Linked DNA regions of Homo sapiens. The protein of the gene in region 3 interacts with the protein of the main gene of each other region in a pairwise test. Each region holds a gene or a part of one and is shown on either strand. Other genes may lie near its edges.

The links. The genes of interacting proteins can lie anywhere in the genome.
Region 1: the proteins of ELOA2 (region 3) and CHD2 interact in binary tests that used the Homo sapiens proteins (3 or more experiments, as listed by UniProt).
Region 2: the proteins of ELOA2 (region 3) and SREK1IP1 interact in binary tests that used the Homo sapiens proteins (3 or more experiments, as listed by UniProt).

The regions. Positions count from the first base shown.
Region 1 is NC_000015.10:92,938,069-92,945,401, reverse strand, and holds part of CHD2 (chromodomain-helicase-DNA-binding protein 2), read right to left. Parts: intron 5,825-7,333; coding exon 5,684-5,824; intron 3,581-5,683; coding exon 3,447-3,580; intron 2,560-3,446; coding exon 2,334-2,559; intron 988-2,333; coding exon 887-987; intron 1-886. UniProt on the Homo sapiens protein: ATP-dependent chromatin-remodeling factor that specifically binds to the promoter of target genes, leading to chromatin remodeling, possibly by promoting deposition of histone H3.3.
Region 2 is NC_000005.10:64,737,614-64,744,946, forward strand, and holds part of SREK1IP1 (protein SREK1IP1), read right to left. Parts: intron 3,588-7,333; coding exon 3,444-3,587; intron 1-3,443. UniProt on the Homo sapiens protein: Possible splicing regulator involved in the control of cellular survival.
Region 3 is NC_000018.10:47,032,514-47,040,515, reverse strand, and holds ELOA2 (elongin-A2), read left to right. Parts: upstream 1-4,894; 5' UTR 4,895-5,251; coding exon 5,252-7,513; 3' UTR 7,514-7,989; downstream 7,990-8,002. UniProt on the Homo sapiens protein: SIII, also known as elongin, is a general transcription elongation factor that increases the RNA polymerase II transcription elongation past template-encoded arresting sites.

The DNA of each region.
Region 1 (7,333 bases), on a different chromosome or scaffold from region 3:
AAAAAAGAAGAAGAAGAAGAAGAAAAAAATTCTTTTTCTCATCTCTCTCTCAGGCTGACACTCCACTTCTCTGTTCCCCTTTGTAAGAAAACTCCCCCAACGAGTTGTTTATACTTGCTATCCCCTCTCATTTTCTCTTGAACCTACCCTAATCAGGCCGCACCCTCACCACTCCATGGATGCGTTTTGCCAGTGCCAAATTCACAGATCAAGTCTCAGTCCTAATCGTCCTTGACTGACAGCATTTCCTCTCTCCTGGCTATGTGAATCACTTGGCTTCCAGTACACCACTCTCTCTCAGCTCTCCTCCTGTCTCACCGACTGTTCTTTCTCAGTCTCCTTTGCTAGCTTCTTTCTGACTTCCAAAAGCTGAAATGCTCTCAGACTACTTCTTCTTACCACGTGATACTCTATTTCTGATGGTCCTGTTCAATCTTGGCCTTTAAATACTAAATACTGATAAATTTCCAAATTTAAATCTCCAGCCCAGACTAAAGAGTCCTAAGCTCCAGGTTCACATATGCTCCAGCCTTCACTATATTCTCCACTTAGATGACTAAGAAGTAAATCAAACTTACAAATATCAAACTAAGCTCTTGGTCTCCACTCCAATGATCAGCTCTTCCCTTCATCTTTCCACTTCGGTAAATGGTACCTCTAAACTTCTACATGTTTAGGCCACAAATCTTGAGGTCATACTTAACACCTCTTTCTCTCATCCCCCACATCCAAATTTACCAGCAAATCTTCTTAGCTTTTCCTTTAAAATAAACCTAGCACGTGTCTAGTCTCCAAAGTGCATTTTTAAAATTTACATTACTTCCAAAAGCAAAAGCCACTATTCCTCAAGTTCAAATATGGCTGAAGTGAGTTACCATGTACTTACCTATTACTCTTTCTACTATCTGATACTGTTTATTCAACTCTGAAGCCAGCTCCTGTTGGCAATTGAAATATTCTACATCTTCAGGAGAAACTTTCCCTAACCTGAATGGCAGACAGACAGAAAAAGTACACATAAACTAAAGTCTGGGGATCCACATACATCAAAGCAAAAGTCAAAGGTGGAAAAGAAAACCTATTTTTTACTCCCATCTGCCCCTTAAGTAATCTTTACTAGTAATTACGCCAGAGATTTTACAAAACAAAACAAACAAACAAAAAAAACACTTTTAGAGAACACTGAAAACCTTACACTCATAGAAGGATATACCAGTTACCTGCCTCTGATGTGTCCTGTCTAAAAAGAGACCCAAAAATAACTCTTTTATGTGATAGATTCATGTGGCAAATTCATACATCTCAACAAATCAGGATAATAAAACTGTACGCCTTTTCTTATATATATATGGGTTTTAGGATTGATTAAACATGACTTGGAAAACTAGTTATTCTTATTACCAAAACCTTTCAGATGACAACAGCAGCAACTTAATATTAGAATTATTATATTTCAGAGGATTTCAAATTTCTAACTGCTTTACAAGCCTACCTCACCATCTAAGGGGTACATATTTTCAGTTTTGAGTCAAAGAAAAAACATGTAATTTACTAAAGTAGCACATTTTGCACAGTAGTAAAACCAGAATTACTGTCCACATTCCAGACACAAAAATCTATGCACATTCCAGACACAAAAATAGGCTAATCACACCACACAGACAGGTATGTCTTCAGGCTGAGCTTGATACCATTATTACCCAGTTTAGGTTTTTGTGTGCTATAGCTCCACATATTTCCCATATACAACACCCAGACATTCAAGGCTGTAAGTAAACTAAACACACGAGGACTATCACAGTTTCAGTAGTTAACCTAATAATTTCCTTCACATCATTTCTGCAAATTGTATAAAACCAGAATTTGTTTTAAGTATATCATAACCCAGAGAGTTCCAGAATATTAACTCTCTACATCTAAGCCACCCCAGCCTAACTACAGGAAAATAACAAGGTGCTTAAGAGAATAAGCTCTGGATTCAGGGCATCAGAATTCAAAACCTGAGTCCACTTGCAGAATTGCTGTGTGCCGTATTCTCCCCATCTACAAAATGGGTAATAACAGTACAAATCTCATGCACTTATTGTGAAAACTAAAGAATGTGTGAATAACGCTCCATAAGCTAGTTAACTCCAAAAACTTGGTAGCCACATATAAAAATATAGTATCTGAAGGTCACAATCTTATAAAATAGAATTGTAAATGGCTCCATGTTTAGATGATCAAAGCAAAATCTGAGATTCTAGATAGCTGTGATCTCCATGCATTATTTTAAAACCTTCCCTTCTTTCAGGCTGCAAATACATTTCTTTAATCCATGATGGAAAATATACCATTGTTTGATTTCGTCCTCTTTTTTCTTGAAGTTCTCTAGTTTTTTTAGGCCCTTCACTTTCTGTTGCTGTAAGGATTCTTCACTCTCCCATGTGCTGTGGATGTAAGACCAACCCTTCCACTTGATGAGGTACTGGATTTCACCTTCATCCTTTTCAGTGTCAAAGTCACCACTAGGGTCGCCATTAGCTTCAATCGCATATACAGTAGTAGATGCTCCAGTGGCTGCAAAAGGATTAAGTACACTTGAAAGAGAGTATATTACACCAGATATTAAAAAGCTTCCCAAGAATGCAATTATCTGAAGACTCCCTTTGTGGATGAAGCACCAAAATACTTCAACTTGAAATAAGTACAAACTCACAAACAACACAGAACGGACTCAATCAAAAATTTCAAGTATTTTAAAAATGTAAACCACTTTTTACATATTCCTAAATTTGCAGGTGAAATCAAAGAAATCCCTTATTCAAAAACAATAAAAACAGAGCAGCAACATCCTTTTGTTTTGGTCCCTTACTAACTCGGAAAACAAATCCCTCTCTCCAAGACTAAGGATAGAACACCAAAATATCCTCCTCCAACCTCCCCTACTCGAAGTCCCCGGTTAACTTTCTTAACCTCAATCGAAGCCAGAATGAAAAAAAGAAAAAAAAAAAAAAGCCAAAAGAAAAAGCATTAAGTATTATTTTGGTATTTCCTTTACAGAAAGTTTACTTTAATGCAACTTAGTTATGAGATATCTAAATTAGATATTTAAAAATCTTCAATATTACCACAATATTTATTTAACCAGTTTGATATTTTCACAAGGAGCTTAAGAAACAAATAACCAAAGGTGGATTTGCTTAATGTTAATTAGCAGGTATCTCTGCTATATCACTGCTTTATAAAACATTGACACTTATCTATACTAGCTTAATTTAAAATCTTAAAGACATAGTGTACACATACCTTTGTCCTCAGCTCTGAAACACTGGGTCAGAAAGACTTCTACATATCACAACAAATACAGCAGTAGACTAAAATTCATCACATTAGAGTTAAAATACCTAAAATCTAAGTCTTACTAAGCATACATAAAATGTAATTTGCTCCCCAAATACACATACCTCCTTTCTTTCCCAGTCTTGAATCTAAGACCTTTTCAATAGTTTCACTATTATCTTGCTGTTCATCAACTCCTTCTCCAGTCATTTCAATGAGATCATCTGAGTCAGTCTCAAAGTCATCATCTTCTTTGTAACTGCAAGAGGAATAATGCTGAATAAATGAGAAATGATCTCTTCAGAATTAAACTGCCACACATAACCGTCACTAGAATAAGAAACCATACCCTTTTGGTTCCAAAAGCATGTTGTTTTATAGATCTGCCATTTACAGTAGGCTCAAAGCTTACTTTTTTTTCCTAAAGTGCTGATGAATGCTCCTAAACAACTGTAGGGAGTCTAACTCAATTTGAAAATAAAAATTCTATATTTATACTGATTTGTATAAGCAAGATATAGAAAACTATAAGGACACTTCTATTTTTTTCATTTTTTAGTATCAGATTATTATGTAAACAAGTAGACTACCACACAAAAAAAGAAAAACCATAATGGAAGAAAAAATTTGCTACTATTTCATCAGGCAAAAAGAGAAGCAATATTTCTAAAATTAAAAATGTCAACCCTGTATGTTGTCTCCCAGTAATAAGAATATGAAATTTAAGTATTCCCAGACTGCTGGAAGCTTCAACACAAATACTTCCTGGTTTAAAAAAAGAAACATATTGGCTAGGCGCGGAGGCTCACACCTGTAATCCCAGCACTTTGGGAGGCTGACACAGGTGAATCACGAGGTCAGGAGTTAGAAACCAGCCTGGCCAACATGGTGACCGTATCGATTAAAAATACAAAAATTAGCCGGCATGGTGGGCGCCTGTAATCCCAGCTACTCTGGAGGCTGAGGCAGCAGAATCACTTGAATCCGGGAGGCAGAGGTTGCAGTGATCCAAGATCGCGCCACTGCACTCTAGCCTGGGCAACACAGCAAGACTCCGTCTCAAAAAAAAAAATTATATATATATATTTATATATATATTTATATTTATATTTATATTTATATATATTTATATTTATATATATTTTATATATATTTATATGTATATTTATATATATATTTATATATATTTTTATATATATTTATATGTATATTTTTATATATTTATATATTTATATATATTTTTATATATTTATAATATTTATATATATTTATATTTATTTATATATTTATATATTTTTTATATTTTTTATATATATTTTTATATATGTAACTTCCTATCACATATTAACAATGAATGATTGAGTCACAAGAAAGAAAAACAATCCTGGATGTAGTACAGTTACAGTAAGAAAAAGTGCTAGGCTATACACTAGCATACTCAAAGCCCAGTCCTAGCTTTGGAATTATTAACTGGATACATTGAATAAGTTATGAATATCTCTAGGATTCATTTTCACCATCTCTATGAAGAACAAATCTGTAAAATCTAAAAAAAAAAATACTTGATTTCTATAAAGTAAACTACTAGTGTTTGCATATATCTGTTCCTTTATTTCATTTTCCTTTTTCTTTTTGAGACAGGATCTAGCTTTTTTGCCTGGAGTGGAGTGCAGTGGCGTGATCTCAACTCACTGCAACCTCCATCTCCCAGGATTCTCCCACCTCAGCCTCCCAAGTAGCTGGGACTGCAGGTGCATGCCGCCACCACACTCGGCTTTTTCTTATTTTTTGTAGAGACAGGGTCTCGCCCTGTTGTCTAGGCTGGTCTCAAACCCCTGGGCTCAAGCAATCTGCCTGCCTCGGCCTCCCAAAGTGTTGGAATTACAGGCATGAGCCACTGAGCCTGGCCTATTTCACTAATGATAATTCCTATTAATGCTTCATATCCTATTAGTACTTGATAAAATCAGATTCAAGTAGCAATACGTTAAGCTGAACCTCAGAAAAACGTCTGTGATTCAAAGAGCAATTCAGAAGTAGGAATATAATCCAAATATCTTTAATGGAAAAAAATGTTATGAAATGAAGATAATGCCACTAAGTCACCATTGGACAGGACACGAACTTGTGGTGTTTTTTAGGAATGAAGGCTTCAAATGAGCTATTGCTACTCTTTTCCTATTCCCCTTGGCTCAATACCACTCTTTTTGCAAGAAAGCTAACCAGATTTCTGAAAACAACTTCAGGACATAGGCTGTTATTTTTATCTATTAAGTGCACAACCCCGGACTTATGAGAACCAAAATCTAACCAACTACTTTATCACATCACACCAGTGAAACACTTCTGGGGTACAACTTACCTAACGTTTTTAGCCGCTCTTCGACGAGTCTGCCTTTTGGGAGCTTCGTCATCATCATCATCCTCATCAGAAGAATCTTGCTTTTTTCTCTTTCCACGCTGAGTCTTCGGCTGCTTTTTAACACGAGGTTTGGGCACTGTTCTAAAATGAGAAGAGAAACAAAAGGCTAAGTCTTCACTTTATCATTTGGTGTCTACTTTATATAACAGTATTTCCCAGAGCAGTGGTTCATACATCAGAATGTAACATTTCACTTGGGGAATGTTAAACATGCATATTCTTGGGCCCTACTCCCTGAAATTCTAATTCACTAGAAATCTGGATTTCCAACAGGAAGGTCATTCTAATGCTGATAATCCTCAATCATTTATGGGAAAGAACGTGAATGTTTCACAAATGTTCATCAGGATTACCTGATATAAAAACACATACACAGCATGTTGTTCATGATAGTATCTCTTTGGTGGGCAAACTGGAAATAGCTATCAAACTATTTTACTTGTAGGAATTAACAGTTTTACTTGTAGGAATTAATCCTATTGATATACACCTAAACAGGCATAATAAAGTATTCACTATAGCATTATTTGCAACAACAAAACATTAAGAAAACTCTAAATATTCTTCAACTGGAAACTAAACAGTACCATGTACTCATAGAAAAAAAAAAAGAGTTTTTTGTATACTAATACGAAAGGATTTCCAGGATAAAGAAACCTACAGAACAAGCAGCAGAGGATGCTATTATCTGTGTGAAGAAAGTAAAGCACAAGAAGTAACTATACATAAGTTTTTACTGTATGTGTATAAAATATACCTGGAATACTACCTGAGAGACTGTGTGCCCTATCACAGAATTAACTTGGACAGACCAGGGAGATGGCCAGGATTGAAAGCCACAGTCTAGAAGCTCACCTAAGGAAATCCCCAAATATTCCATCAGTGATAAAAAGGTGAAAGAAGTCAGAGAGGGAGAGAAATGGATACTCATGATCACATTTATTATCTCTTTCTCTCATACCTCCCATACCTTTCTCATAACCAAACCTAAACAGATGATCAACGATGTAATAAATAATGAGCAAAATTCTAAAAGACAGAACTGGCGTGACAGTTCTGAGATAAACTTATTAAGCTGAGATAAAATAAGATAAAATTCAGTTGACAAATTCCCCTGCTGGTGTTGGGGGGTAAGTACAATGTCCTAGGCCAGAGGTTGGCAAACTTTTTCTGTAAATGGCCAGAGAGTAAATATTTTAGGCTCTGCCAGCCAAGAGGCAAAATGGGGACCAATGTATAGGTCCTTACATAATGAAAGAAAATAAATTTTCACAAATTTTTTTAAATAATTCAAAATGAAATAATCAGGTACATTTACTGCAATATATATCTACTAATGAGAACAGAATTGTTTTTGAGGGGATAACATTTCACTTAATTGGAGTTCAAATTTAGTGCTCTCTATCCTTAAACTGTAAATTAGAAATGTTCATCTATAAAAACTATTCTTAGCTCACAGGCCATATGAAAATAGGTGGTGGATGAAATTTGGCCCAAAGGGCATAGTTTGCTGAGTCCATTCTAAGCAATACTACAAGGAGGTAATTTTCCCTGGGGCCTGTCTTCTGACTCCCTTTTCCTGTCATCACT
Region 2 (7,333 bases), on a different chromosome or scaffold from region 3:
AAACAACAGAAAAGCCCAAAGAAACTAAGAGCTTTTTAATAAAAAGATAAAACTGACATATCTTTAACTAGACTAACTCAGAAAAAAGACAGGGCCAAAATTAGAACTGAAAAAAGAGAGTATAAGTGATGTCACAGAAATATAAAGGGGTGTTATATAAATATATAACTATATAAGAGAATACAAGGAACATTTATATGTCAACAAATTGGGTAACTTACAAGAATACACTCCTTGAAACATAAAATGTATCAGGAGTGAATCATGAAGAAATCGAAAATAGGAACAGACCAGTAACAAGTAAAGACACTGGGTCAGTAATCCTCCCAGCAGAGAAAAGCCCAGGACTAGATGGCTTTGCTGGTGAAGTCAACCAAACATTTAAAGAGCAATTAAGCCAATTCTTCCAAAGCACTTCTAAAGAACTGGAGAGAAGAGATCACTTCCAAACTTATTTTACAAGGCTGGTATCACCCTGATACCAAAGCCAGACAAAGGTACCTTAAGAAAATAAAATTACAGACCAATACACCTGATGAACATATATGCAACAATCTTCAGCAAAATTCTAGCAAACCAAACTTAGCAGCACATTAAAAGGATCATACACTATGATCAAGTGGGATTCATCCATGGGACACAAGGATGGCTCAATATATGCAAATCCATAAATGTGAAACATCACATTAAGAAAGGAAGGCTAAAAATCAAATGAATATTTCAATAGATGCAGAAAGAGCATTTGACAATATATGTGCTCATGGATTGAAAGAATATTGTTAAAATGCCTACATTATCTAAAGCAATCTATGAATTCAATGGAATCCCTACCAAAATCCCAATGGCTCTTTTGACAGATATATAAAACATAATCCAAAAATGTATACGGAACCACAAAAGACCCCATACAGCCAAAGCAATCTTAAGAAGAACAAAGCTGTAGGCATCACATTCCTTGATTTCAAAATATATTACACAGCTATAGTAATTAAAATAGTATTGTACTGACATAAAGACAGACACATAGACCAATGTAACAGAATAGGAAGTCCAGGAATAAACCCATGCATATATGATGAACTGACCATGAGGGGTGTTAAGAACACACAATGGGAAAAGGATGTCTTCAGCAAATGGTCTTGGGTCAAGTGTATATCCACATACAAAAGAATAAAACTGTACCCTCACCTCATGCCATATATAAAAATCAACCTAAAATGAAGATATCTGAAAACAACTTTATTCTATTTTCACGCTTGGCTAATAATTTGGTTGAAAATATTATTCTGACTTGGATATAATTTCCCTTCCAAAATGTGAAGGCATTCCCCACATCTATTAGCTTTCAGGACTGCTTTAGAGAAGTGGAAAGCTATTCTGACTCCTGATCTTTGACAGATGACCTGTTTAATCCCTGATCCTGGAAGCCTGGATTATATTTTCCTTGTTCCCTGTGATATGAAGTTTTATAATGGTGTGCCTTTGTGTGGGTCTATTTTTAGCTCTGTGTTTGGTACTTGTGACACCTTTTCAACTGTAAAACTAATGTCCTTCAGTTCTTCGAAATTTTCTTTCTGGGACTCATTTGAGTGAAGTATTTCCTAGACTAATTGTGATATATGTCTGGGAACCAAATAGGTGAAGAAAGTTCTCAGCCTTTAACTTCCTCCCTGCTTTCAGCTATGGTTAGTGTGTCCCAGTCTAAAGAACCTATGTTTTACCCTCTCTAGAAAATAAACCTCCAGTAGTCTGCTGGGGTGATGAAGGGAAGTCATCTGACTTCATAGGGGAAGGGAACTGAGGGTCTAACTCGTGGAGACTTCAAACCAATCCTCCTGTTTTTAGCCTTATATTCAGCCAGAGGTACCCAAGGATACTAATTATCATGTCTTTAGGGGATTCTAGAATATATGTCGGGTTACTTCACAGCTTTCCACACTGCTGAAGAATTTAGCTTTTTCAAGAGTGTAATCAGTTATCACTCTTCTGCTTTTCAGTTTCCAAAATTTTACTGCTATTCCCTCCTAACTCAGTTTCTTTGCCCTTGTGAGTTTACGTCTTTAAATTTTTTTCTACTTCTGGCATTTTAGTGGTATTTCAGTAGAGAACAAAAGTGTGTGTATTCAATCAACTGTCTTTACCCTGAAGCTGTATATACTCATATATGATATGACTCTTGTTTGCCCTCTTTGGGATTCTCTCCCTCTTTTTCCTTTTCAGCTTGTTCTAGCACCTTACATTTGACTTCTTCACTTACCTTAACTGGACATAATATGGAAAGCTTGATATTAAAAACAAAGTTTACTGTTTAATGTTCATCGACAATCTAAACTAAAATGAATTTAAAATTTGTAACTCTCTCATTCCTTGTCTAAGATTATATTCAAATAAGTTATATTTTATTTCAGAGTGATATTTACCATAGTGCATTTTGTAGTTTACAAAGTAGTTTAATTTATGGCATCACGTTTAATCCCTAAAAACCCCACTGCAAGGATGAGCTATTTTATACACAACGTGGGAAAGAAAGGGTTAAATAACAGGTCCGCTATCCACTCTCTCTCTAGGGAGAGAGGAGGATGTGTCCAGGAAAGACAGAGAGTGACCTGGAGAAATCTCTCTGAAACACACTAACAATAGATCTCCTGGAAAAAAAATAAATGATATCTGTTAGCCATAGAACCCCTATTTATATAATTATCATTTACATCCTTTTAGTAGGATGTAACTGAGATTGCTTATGGTAAACAAACCTGGAATCTATAGATTTATGGGGCATAGCTCCCTGGAAAATGTAACTATCCAAGCATAAAATGAGTATGTTTCATGACCAAATCAACTTTCTTTGGTATAAGTAATAAAGAAACTTCTTATGTTAATATTGATCACAGTGGGTTATGAAGTAGAAAGGAAATACCTGGGGAGCTGTATTGGCATGCCCAGAACTCTCTGCTTTGCCTATGCCTCACGATCACTTGTATACTTGAAATTATTAGTGAAGCTTGATACTGGCTAAGATCACTGATCTGCATGAGCATCATTTGACAATCCAACATTTTGTGTTATCCCACAAGGCAGCTGAGCCTCAGGATGGTTAAGTCACTTGGTGAAAGTCATGTGCTAAAACAAATTGCCAAATAGGACTAGAAACCAAATCTTAAATCACACTTTTTCAGCCATTTGACACATATCCTAATGTGATGGGGGAAAAACAACAACAAAAAACATAAGCTGTGTGTCAGAAATAGACTTGCCTCCTGGATCTGTAATTGCTTAGCTGTTCAATCTTAGGCAAATAACTTACAATATTTAAAACCTATTTCCTATGCAGTAGCTCTTACATAAACTATAAAAGAGATCTTAGTAAGTATAATGGAAAGCATGATATAATATGACAGAACATTTACAAACATTTCTAAAGAATGGAAAAAAATATTGCTTACTTTTTTCCTGTAATGCCTGCAATTTATTCAGTTCTTCATTCTCTTCATCGCTATCTTCACTACTTGTACTGCTGACATCCAAAACTATGTCCCTTTTAGGGTCTACTCGGAGAAAATTGCGGCATTCAAAAGTCAGGTGACCAGCTAAGTGAAACAAACAAAAAAAATGTGAGTGATAAAACTATAGATACATTATGTATTTTTGTATGTTTTGCTGCCTCACGGTAACCAGTAAGTTACAATTTCAATAATATAATGTAGAAAGCTTTAACTTTTATTCAGTTGGTAGTAGTTTGGTTATTTTCCCTATACTTTTCCATGAATGCAATACTCAGAAAGAACTTTTTCCTTTCTTCCTCAGAACTCCTTATTCAATAAGCATTTTTGGGGGCCACTTCTTATGGATTTCAAAGTATTGAGTTATTCTATTTCCCTTTCTAAAAATACAGTAATATCTTTAACTAAACTAAGTAAATAAAAAATACCATCATACTTGGGATTTTATATTATATTCCTTTCCCATACCTTTTCTTTCCCAGTTTGACAAATGTACTCATGCAATTATATACCTTTCATCTAATTAAAGTTGGCATAATAATATACAAGCATTAATATAACTGAATGTGCTTTACTAAAGAATACCTAAACATTTAATTCTTGCATCATTTCCCTAAAGACTCTACCCTATAAGAAAACTACAACAGTTATCTACTTATGTATATGTTTTAGAAAGTCAAATATTACAAACACTATAAAAGTAAAGAAAATAATATAACCAATACCTAAATACCTATCATCCAAATGTTAACATTTTGTCATGCTCACTTTCAATTCATTTAAGGAAAAAGCTCACTCGCATGCCTGTGCGCACACACACACACAGCTGGAGAGCTTGTATCAACTTTTGGAACACTTTCTCAATCTCATTCCATTTTTTTTTTTTTGTCCTCTGAAGCAACTGCACTGAAGTTGGTCTCTATCATTCCCAAACAACATATTGTGATATGTATTCTTAAAAAAATAAACTCAATTATACCTATACCTGCAATTTTTTCCTGCCACCCAATATTTTGTGATTTATCTATGTTAACATAACAGGTGTAATTTGCTCATTTTATCTAATCGATAATGTTCTACTGTATGAAAATTATATTTATTTGCTGTACTATTGATAGAAACGTAGGTTGCTTCCAGTAGTTTGCTATTATAAAAAGTGTTTAAATGGGCAGTTGTACATGTCTCTTTGTGCACATGTACTAGGTTTTCTTTAGGGTAGCAGCTTTCAAGTTTTCTTAACAACCGAGAACAGTAAAAAATAATGCAAACAAGTGCACTCATACACACATTCATGGATAAATACACCCTAACACACAAAAACTGAAACAAAAGTTAATTGAAAGATTTCTATATTCAATGTTCAAAACAACCAAGGCTAATGGTGATCAAATAATTCATTTCACGATCCACTAATGATTCACTACAAATCTATGCTAGGGGTTGTTTCCAGTTGTCTCTTATTTTGTGGGTGAAGTCCTTTGGGAGTCCTAGGTTTATACCAGAGACTCTCTAAATAGAGTTCCAATTTGGCTTGGGCAGGGCCCTGGGCCTTATTTTTATCCCCCACATCCTGCCAGCCCATAAAAAATAGAAGTTCAAGAGCCTAGGGTTCATCAAATATCCTCAAGGCTTAATTCCTGGAACTTCTCCTTTCCTTTGGTTGTTGGCCTTTGAATATTCTTAGTTCTTTATTTTTTTCTAGTATATTAATGTATCTAAAATATGTATTGCACATTTTATACAAGTTTCTTAGTTGTTTCTTAGTCTAGTCTGCCATATTATTGGAACAAGTTTTCCTCACTGTGATTTCCTAACAAATGAATCATTCAGAAGCACTCTTTTTAGCTTCCAAACATATGGAGTTTTCAGGCTTTGTGTTTATTGTCAATCTCTAAATTTACTACACTGTTATCAGAGAATGGGATCTGTATGATATTAGTTCTTTGGTATTTGATGAGACTTCTTTTGTGGCCTAGGATGTAGTAAATTTAGGAAAGATTTGTTATGTATTTTGAAAACACAGTCATATACTGCATAATGGTGTTTAGGTCAATGATGGACCACATAGACAACACAGGTCCCATAAGATAATAATACTGTTCCTTGTCAATGTTTAGATATGTTTAGACACACAAATACTTACTACTGTGTTACAACTGCCTACACTATTCAGTACAGTAACATGCTATACAGGTTCATAGCCTAGCAACAATAGGCTATACCATGTAGCCTAGGTGTGTAGTAGACTATACATCCAAGTTTGTGAAAGTACACTCTATAATTTCCACACAAAGATGAAATTGCCTAATGACACACTTCTCAGAATGTATCCCTGTTGTTAAACAACACAACCATATATTGTTATTTGTTGAAAAGGGTTCTATATCTGTTTGCTTGTTCAACTCTTCTCCATCTTAATTTTTTTGTCTAATAACTTCTGATAGAAGTACTTAAAATTATACAAGTATTGATTTGTCAATAATTGCTATTATAAATAATGTTGAAATGAGCAGCTGTAGACATCTCTGTGGGCATGCACCAGGTTTTCTCTAGGGTAGATTTGTCAATTTCTCCTTGTAACACAGATTTTGCTATATATTTTGAGACATTAGTAAATGCTTTGAAGATCATTACTTTATCTTTTTAGTTTATTGTTCGTGAGTTTCCACTTATCACCAGTAGTGCTTTTGCCTCAAAAGTCTGAAATTATAATGGTTCTGTTATAGTAGGTAGCTAGTCAGGCATGAGTGGAGCAGGAGAGGGCTCCCCCACTCACAAAGGAACATCAGGCAACCATCAAGTGATGGTCCAGCAGCTGTCACACTGTCTCTCTAAAATGATAATTGGTCACAGCCAGTGCCAGGGAGAAGCAGTTTCTGAACAGATAAAAATACCTGAAATTGATAATCAGCAGCTTCCAATAAGATCTCAGGAACCGGGCAAGTGGACACAAGCATGTGCATTAAGAGGCAAAAATGAAGGAGTATGACCTTCTGGGGGCATTCCACCAGAAAAGGGAAGAAAAAGCCTCAGGTGAACATGTGTACAACTCCAGTAAACACACTGTGCATGCTCACCTCCCAAGCGCAGGTAGGGCACCATGCATAAGAGAACAATGAAGGGAAAGGGGTGCAAGACGCTGGAAGTAAGCCAGCATGTAAAATGCTAGGTTCAATGTTAATTGGGGCACTTAACCTCAAGGTGCCTGTCTGGGCCTCTTCCAAGTATATTTTCCTTTCTTTCGTTCCTGCTTTAAAGCTTTTTAATAAATGTCTACTCCTGCTCTGAAACTTGCCTCAGTCTCTTCTTCTGTCTCATGACCCTCAGTAGAATTCTTTCTTCTGAGGTGGCAAGAATAGAGGTTGCTGCAGACCTGGACGGATTCGCCACCGGTAACTAGGATACCCACCACCGCTAACAGTTCCACTAGTGCTCTTTTGTTTATTATTCGTTGGGTAATATGAAATTGCCATTTTTGTAGGTAAAATAGTGGAATATCAGCAATGTTCAATCAAATATGTGTTTTTTCCTTGTCCCTTTATTTTGAAAATTTCTGTGTAGTTTTTAGTTTTATGTGTAGTTTTATTAATCACAACACGTAGTTGGACTTAATTTTTTAAATTTGATTTGATATCAGCACAATTTTTAACATTAATTTCTTAGCATGGGAAAAATAGTTCCTGCTTCACAGGAAGCCGTGTAAATTCACTCCTCATACTTACATATACTTACAAGGTATAGGCTGAGGTTGCCAATTCTTATTTGTTTTCTTCTAATTATCTTATGGGAACTCAAACACACTATACGCATTCTTGCTTCTTTCAGTGAGTGAA
Region 3 (8,002 bases):
ATATGTTATTTGCTGAAAAGCCCAAATAGTTGAAAGCAGAATCTTGGCTTCTAGGCCAATGCTCTTCCTTTCATCAACTCCTCCTCATCATTCTCTCACCAATTTATATTCACTCCAGACCAGAGATAATCTTCTACTTTATATCATTTCATAAAATCCATACCCTGCACAACCACTATTTTAATTTACCAAAACCTGTGGGCCAAACTTGCCAGAAACAAACAACTGTGGTTACCAGCCGGTCTTTCCTAGTTGACCTAACAGAGTAATAAATGAATGATGTCTTTTACAATTTCTCAAACCTAATTTCCCACAATATTAGTGACCATTCCAAAGCTGTTACTGGCTAGACCTCCTTCAAAAGGTTAGTCACCCTGCTGTACCAGGAGTAGTATGTCTTATAAGAGATTATGTCTTTTAATTGCTGAATAGTTGCAGACCTGCTGTAAATAAAGCTAATCCATTTCATATGCATGTAAAAGTCTTTGAGAAAGCAAAGATGGGAATTGGCTTAAAGAGACATGAAAGTGATCTACATTTTTCTAAAGACTATATTGGACACTGACTGGTCCCATTTCTAACAATGTCCATATCCCTCCATATTAGAGGTTCTAACACAGTGTCCTGTACATCACATGAAATAAAGCCTGGAAAGTGCTTTGAAAACTGTGGGGGTGCTATGCCAATATTAGGGATAGTAATTGGTGGGTGCCCAATAGCTGTTAGTTGCTTCGTACATGCATTTCAGAGTCTCTCTATCCTTCACTAGAAGCATTTGCTTCTTCCTAATTGAAACATGTACTTGTGCAAATGTTCTCTAGGACTAGGTCACTGAGAAAAAGTAGCTAGTGTTCTGTGTGCTCCTCAGTACTGGATCCACTGCACTGGGTTTGGCTGAATTTCTTAAAGATGAGGAGGGTCAATTACACTATATTATAGAAATACTCCATGTGTGCACAGACATGCATATACCCAGAGGAAGACCCTCATTAGTGGGATGAAAAACTCATTAGGGAAAACTCATTAGATTTATTAGAGGAACAGAAAAAAAAAGATCCTGGAAGAAACATTTAAAAGCAGGGAGGAGAGGACTGGGGAGGATGGGAGAACTGCAGGAGGCAGTGGGTGGAGGGGATGGCAGGTAAAGGGTACAGAATTTCTCTTTGGGCTAATGAAAAGGTTCTAAAATTGATCAAGGCAATGGAAGTATATCTCTGTGAATATCTTGAAAGCCATGGAATTGTACATTTTAAATGGTGAGTTGTAAGGTATATGAATAAAGATATTTTAAAATGCAAAATGTGGGAGAGGGGCAGAGAAAAGAAGGCTTAAATAAATGTAAATAATTTAAGTAAAATTGTGGCTTGATATATAAAATAAATAGTCTAACTGAAAATATAAATCATTATATGCAATATTTTGAAGCTATTCAAGATGGAAATGATGGGGGTAAAAGAACTGGTTATCACACACAGCACCATGAGGGCCTGCTTTTTCAGCCCCCAGACAGAGCCTGTTTCTGCTTTGGAGTGTAGCAATGACACTTTATTACTACCCAGCCTTGCTCTATCAGTGTGACTACAGGAGTAGACTTACTGAACAGAAGAGTAATACAGGCATTTCTGTGTTCAGAATCTTCACATATTCATTTACAGCAGACATTTCTCTTTGCAGTTTTTCTTGTGGGTTTTATAATAATTTGCAATATATATACAAGTTGAAGAAACCACCTTAACTATTGTCTATACTTCTTCAGTTTTTTGGTACAAAAATAAGCTTCTTTCAATAAGACTCTCAAATTTTTTAAAGTGCAGCTATTTTTTACATTTTTACATCCAGATTTGGTAAGGTATTGAAAGAATATTGTATTTCAGATACAATTGGTGGGAATGTAAGTTGGTACAACCCTTTTGCAGAGCAAATTGACAAAATCTATCAAAGAGAAAAATGCGCATACCTGTCGACCCAGCAATATCACTCAGCAATTTATACTCTAGAGGATCAATTACACTATATTATAGAAATACTCCATGTGTGCACATACATGCACATACACAGAGGCAGAAAAATACAGTTTATTTTCTACTACCCACAGGTAGGATAGTGAGTTTCATAGCAACCCTAATAAAAGCAAGTTGGAACATTTGTCAGAATTATTTCCTTCAAACTCCTTTTTAGAATCCCTGGAGAGTCATTTAAACAGTGAACCACTGACCTAATTAACACAGTTAATCAGGATAAATAAGAAAGCAAAAGCTCTAATTCTTGAGACAGAGGTCTAATTCTTAATCCTAAACAAATCTGAGCAATGTTGATCATACTTTTGAAAGAATAGCCTAAAAGACAGGCTTACTCAGGGTTTTCATTACATTTCTGCAAAATGGCAGGTACTTCAACTCCAATCAAAAGAATTTCCACTTTTTTTTTATTAGAATCACAGTTTGCAAAAGAGTCGATGTCTATAATGGGGATTGGCTGAGTCCTTTAGAACTCTGTCTGGTAATGAGGCTGCATCAAAAATGGCTTTTCATGGTCGGGCACTGTGGCTCACTCCTGTAATCCCAGCAATTTGGGAGGCCAAGGTGGGAGGATCACTTGAGCCCAGGAGTTTGAGAGCAGCCTGGGCAACATAGGGAGACTCCCATCTCTAATAAAAAAAAAAAAATGGCTTTCCTACTATGTGGACTGTGAAGCAGCTTTTACTTGTGGTGACCAGGTCTTAAAATAATAATGTGATTTTTATTTTGTGGTAAGAGTGATAAAAATTCAGAATTCAGTAAGAGTAAAGCAGGAAAAGAGAGTTTTAAAAACACTATTCCAAATGTAGTGTTAAATATTTAAGATGAGCTTCTGTTACTGAAAACACAGAATGCAGTCTTACAAATTTCTTAATTAAAGGTATAAAGTTGGCCAGATCTACATCTTTCTGCCCAGGCCATTCAAATTAACCTAGAAAATTATCTTCTGAATTAAAAAAAACTAAGAATGAGCCATTCCCCGCAAAAAGGATCCATTTAAACTGTAAGAGATGGTGTGCCCCTGAAATGGACACAATTACATGCTCATTAATTTCTGTGTACAAAGAAAGGAGGCCCAGAAGTGAACATCTAATCTAGGTGTCTCATTTGCATGTTTCAATAATCTGGCTGTTTTTGTTTTCTTTCATTTCCTTTGTGGGCTATTGTGCCACAAATATACCTCCATTATCAAATTCAAAATTGAATCCTATGATACCATAGCCTGAGGAAAAGGAAGCATTGAATATCATTCCCAGTTTTAGACCCAGAAGATATTTAGGAAATGTTACTGTATATACACCACATGCAACATTAGTGCTTTTAATTTCCTTTTTACGGGTGCAATGGAGATTAATTTGCATGAGCTCGTTTCAATTTCAGTAATAAGATCCAAATTTTGCATTAAGCTTTCAATCTCAAAAACAAACAGTTAAAAAGCATACATCACTTCTTTCAAATGTCTTTACTATACTTCTGTTTTACAGTCCCTGCATCTAATATTCCCCTAAAAGGTTGAATATATATACCTGTAGGTTCTAATTTGTTTCTTGTTTGTTTCCTGACTATCTCCTGGCTCTGCCAGGAAACTTCCTAACTTTCAAATGCTGTACAACCCAAAAAAATGCTAGAAATATCAAAAGAAGTGTCTACAGATCCAGAAAAGACATTTATTGAATTTAATACAATGTCAGAATTGGTCAACTATGCTCAGAAACATAGGACCAAGTGTTCCCTAATTTGAGAGGGTAAATAAGTAACAACAGAAATAAGAGAAAAAACCATAGATATTTCAAATGATCCTGTTTTAATAATTGTCACTGAAAATTAAAGTCCGATCCAGATACCAAATCTGTTTCAACAATAATAGCTAGAGACAAGAGTAAAAATTTCTTTAAAGTTTTAAAACAGGTGGAAGAAGATCCAGAAATATTTATTCCAAGATTTGTAAGCGGGGATAAAACATGGCTACACTGGATAGTCCTGAAGAAAGAGCACAAAACAAAGGCTACCAAAAGGTGGCAGCACTCCAGTCAAAGACAGAGAGGACCAGTCAAGAGAAGAGGTCATGGCAACAGTTTTGGGGAATGCTCAAAAGATATGACTAAAAGACTTTTTGAAGGGCCAAACCAAGATCAAATATGCTTACTAACAGAGTTTTTGAGAAAACTAGCCAAAGCATGAGCAGAAAAACCATTACCAGAGAGTTCTACCTAATCATGAAAAAGTTCTTGCTGTAGCATTTCACTGAACAAAGGGCAGTTTGGCAAGAGTTTCAAAAGGAGATCATGAGGCGTCCACCTTGCAGTCATGATGTGGAACCTGCTGACTTCTATTTATTTCCTCGTATTAAAAATTCTGCAAACGGCACCCAGTTTTCTTCAGTTAATAATGGAAAAAAGATTTCTTGGAAATAGTTAAATTCCCAGAAACATCAGGGCTTGAGGGACAAGGCGGGGTCAAGACAGTGCTCGAACTACTGTCTCGAAATTGATGGAGCAGATGTTAAGAAATAAAATCTACCGGTTTTATTTTTGTCTTTTAATCCCTGTTTTGACAAATTTGGGAAGTCCCCTCACACAACATCAGTCCTAGGCAAAGAGTTGTTATCCTGTATTGGTTCTTCTTTCTATGATTTTGTCTTGCTGTGTTATTTTCTGTTTTACTCCCAAGAAGATTCAGTCTGTGTTTTTTGGAATTCACAGATGTGGAACCTGCGAACATGGAAGGTCAACGGTAAAACTCAGTGGGGTGTGTCGAGGCTGAAATTAACCTAATCAACCTCTGGGGCACAGCAGTCCACCTGGCGTGGACCGTCCCGATTGTCTGCATTGTGCTGACGGCATGAGTACGTATGGGGGCGGGGCAGCCCAAGAGCTAAGAGGGTCAGGGCTAGAGCCGTGAGTGTCAGCCTGGGATGGGCTACATAAGGCCCAGCTCTGGCACCAGAGCTTCATTCTTTGTTGCACAGCAAACTGCAGAGGTCACTCCAGGCTGTGGCTCCACATCCCGAGGAACAAAAGCGGGCCTGCTCAGCTGTCTGCAAGGACGGCCGTTCCAGACCAAGTGGCCTGCTGCTCCGAGGACCCAGCTCGCTCCAGGCTGTGACTCCACATCCCGAGGTCGCTGCCTGGCGACCGGGCAGCGAGGACCGGCCACCCCAGACTTCCTGTCCCGCAGCCCCAAAGACAGAGCTGCGACCGCCGGGACAGCGACGCCTGCACAGCTCTGGTGAGATGGCGGCAGGGTCCACTACGCTGCACGCAGTGGAGAAGCTGCAGGTGCGTCTGGCCACTAAGACGGAGCCGAAAAAGCTAGAGAAATATTTGCAGAAACTCTCCGCCTTGCCCATGACGGCAGACATCCTGGCGGAGACTGGAATCAGAAAGACGGTGAAGCGCCTGCGGAAGCACCAGCACGTGGGCGACTTTGCCAGAGACTTAGCGGCCCGGTGGAAGAAGCTGGTGCTCGTGGACCGAAACACCCGGCCTGGCCCACAGGACCCTGAGGAGAGCGCTTCCCGACAGCGCTTCGGGGAGGCTCTTCAGGACCAGGAAAAGGCCTGGGGCTTCCCAGAAAACGCGACGGCCCCCAGGAGCCCATCTCACAGCCCTGAGCACAGACGGACAGCACGCAGAACACCTCCGGGGCAACAGAGACCTCACCCGAGGTCTCACAGTCGCGAGCCCAGAGCTGAGAGAAAGTGCCCCAGAATAGCCCCAGCTGATTCCGGCCGCTATCGGGCCTCTCCAACGCGCACAGCTCCCCTCCGGATGCCCGAGGGCCCTGAGCCCGCTGCGCCCGGGAAGCAACCCGGAAGAGGCCACACTCACGCGGCTCAGGGCGGGCCTCTGCTGTGTCCAGGCTGCCAGGGCCAACCCCAGGGGAAAGCCGTTGTGAGCCACAGCAAGGGGCACAAATCGTCTCGCCAGGAAAAACGCCCCTTGTGTGCCCAGGGAGATTGGCACTCCCCTACTTTGATCAGGGAGAAATCATGCGGGGCCTGCTTAAGAGAGGAAACCCCAAGGATGCCCTCCTGGGCAAGTGCCAGGGACAGGCAGCCTTCGGACTTCAAGACAGACAAGGAAGGGGGGCAAGCTGGCAGCGGCCAGCGTGTCCCTGCCTTGGAGGAGGCTCCAGACAGTCACCAGAAGAGGCCTCAGCACAGTCACTCGAACAAGAAGAGGCCCAGTCTAGACGGCCGGGACCCAGGAAATGGGACACACGGCCTGTCGCCCGAGGAGAAAGAGCAGCTTTCCAACGACCGAGAGACTCAAGAGGGGAAGCCACCGACTGCTCATTTGGACAGAACGTCCGTGAGCTCCCTCTCTGAGGTGGAGGAGGTAGATATGGCTGAGGAATTCGAGCAGCCCACTCTGTCATGTGAAAAATACCTCACCTACGATCAGTTGCGGAAGCAAAAGAAAAAGACTGGAAAATCTGCCACCACTGCACTTGGAGATAAACAAAGGAAAGCAAACGAATCCAAGGGCACTCGTGAGTCCTGGGATTCGGCTAAGAAATTGCCTCCTGTCCAGGAAAGCCAGTCAGAGAGGCTGCAGGCGGCCGGCGCTGATTCCGCCGGGCCGAAAACGGTGCCCAGCCATGTCTTCTCAGAGCTCTGGGACCTCTCAGAGGCCTGGATGCAGGCCAACTACGATCCGCTTTCGGATTCTGACTCCATGACCTCCCAGGCAAAGCCAGAAGCACTCTCTTCACCAAAGTTCCGGGAGGAAGCTGCTTTCCCTGGACGCAGAGTGAATGCTAAGATGCCGGTGTACTCGGGCTCCAGGCCTGCCTGCCAGCTCCAGGTGCCGACGCTGCGCCAGCAGTGTGCCCAGGTGCTTAGAAACAATCCGGACGCCCTCAGCGACGTGGGAGAGGTCCCCTACTGGGTTCTTGAACCTGTTCTGGAAGGGTGGAGGCCCGATCAGCTGTATCGCAGAAAGAAAGACAATCACGCACTCGTTAGAGAGACAGACGAATTACGGAGGAATCATTGTTTCCAGGACTTCAAGGAAGAAAAGCCACAGGAAAACAAAACTTGGAGGGAGCAGTACCTGCGGCTTCCGGACGCCCCAGAGCAGCGGCTGAGAGTAATGACAACGAATATCCGATCTGCACGTGGAAACAACCCCAACGGCAGAGAGGCAAAGATGATCTGTTTCAAATCTGTGGCCAAGACGCCTTATGATACTTCAAGGAGGCAAGAGAAGTCTGCAGGAGACGCTGACCCCGAAAATGGGGAGATCAAGCCAGCCTCCAAGCCCGCGGGAAGCAGCCACACTCCCTCCAGCCAGAGCAGCAGCGGCGGTGGCAGAGACAGCAGCAGCAGCATCCTTCGCTGGCTCCCTGAGAAGCGGGCCAACCCCTGCCTGAGCAGCAGCAATGAGCACGCGGCGCCCGCGGCCAAAACCCGGAAACAGGCTGCCAAGAAAGTGGCCCCGCTGATGGCCAAGGCAATTCGAGACTACAAGAGAAGATTCTCCCGACGATAAACTCAGGACTTGCCTTGCAGATAAAATCTGGGGGGATTTTTGCATTGGCAAAGTCAATGCGGGTTGGGGAACGAAACTTCCAATGGACACCAGAACCTTTAACTTGGTGCAAAGTTGAGCCTTTGAATTCTGCAGGTGTCATGTGCTGGCCCTGTGATTTTGCCTCCCACACCCAGCCACTACCTCCCAGCTTGGAGAACACCTCAGAATTCAGAAGATATGAACGCATTGGGAACAATTCTATTTTGGATGTTCACTGATAATTTTTAAAAACACCCTAGTTGTAATCATAAATAAGGAAAAAGATGTGAGATTTCCTTTTTCCTTTCTTTTTTTTTTCGAAATCAAGTAGATAAGAACTTCTTAGACAAAAACACACAAGCCATTAGTTGACACTGATAACTCCGAATACATAAAATGTTTGCTGTTGCTGCCGTTGTTGTTGTTTTAATAAAAGGCTGAGCATGATCTTGTAATCGTGAGCCATCC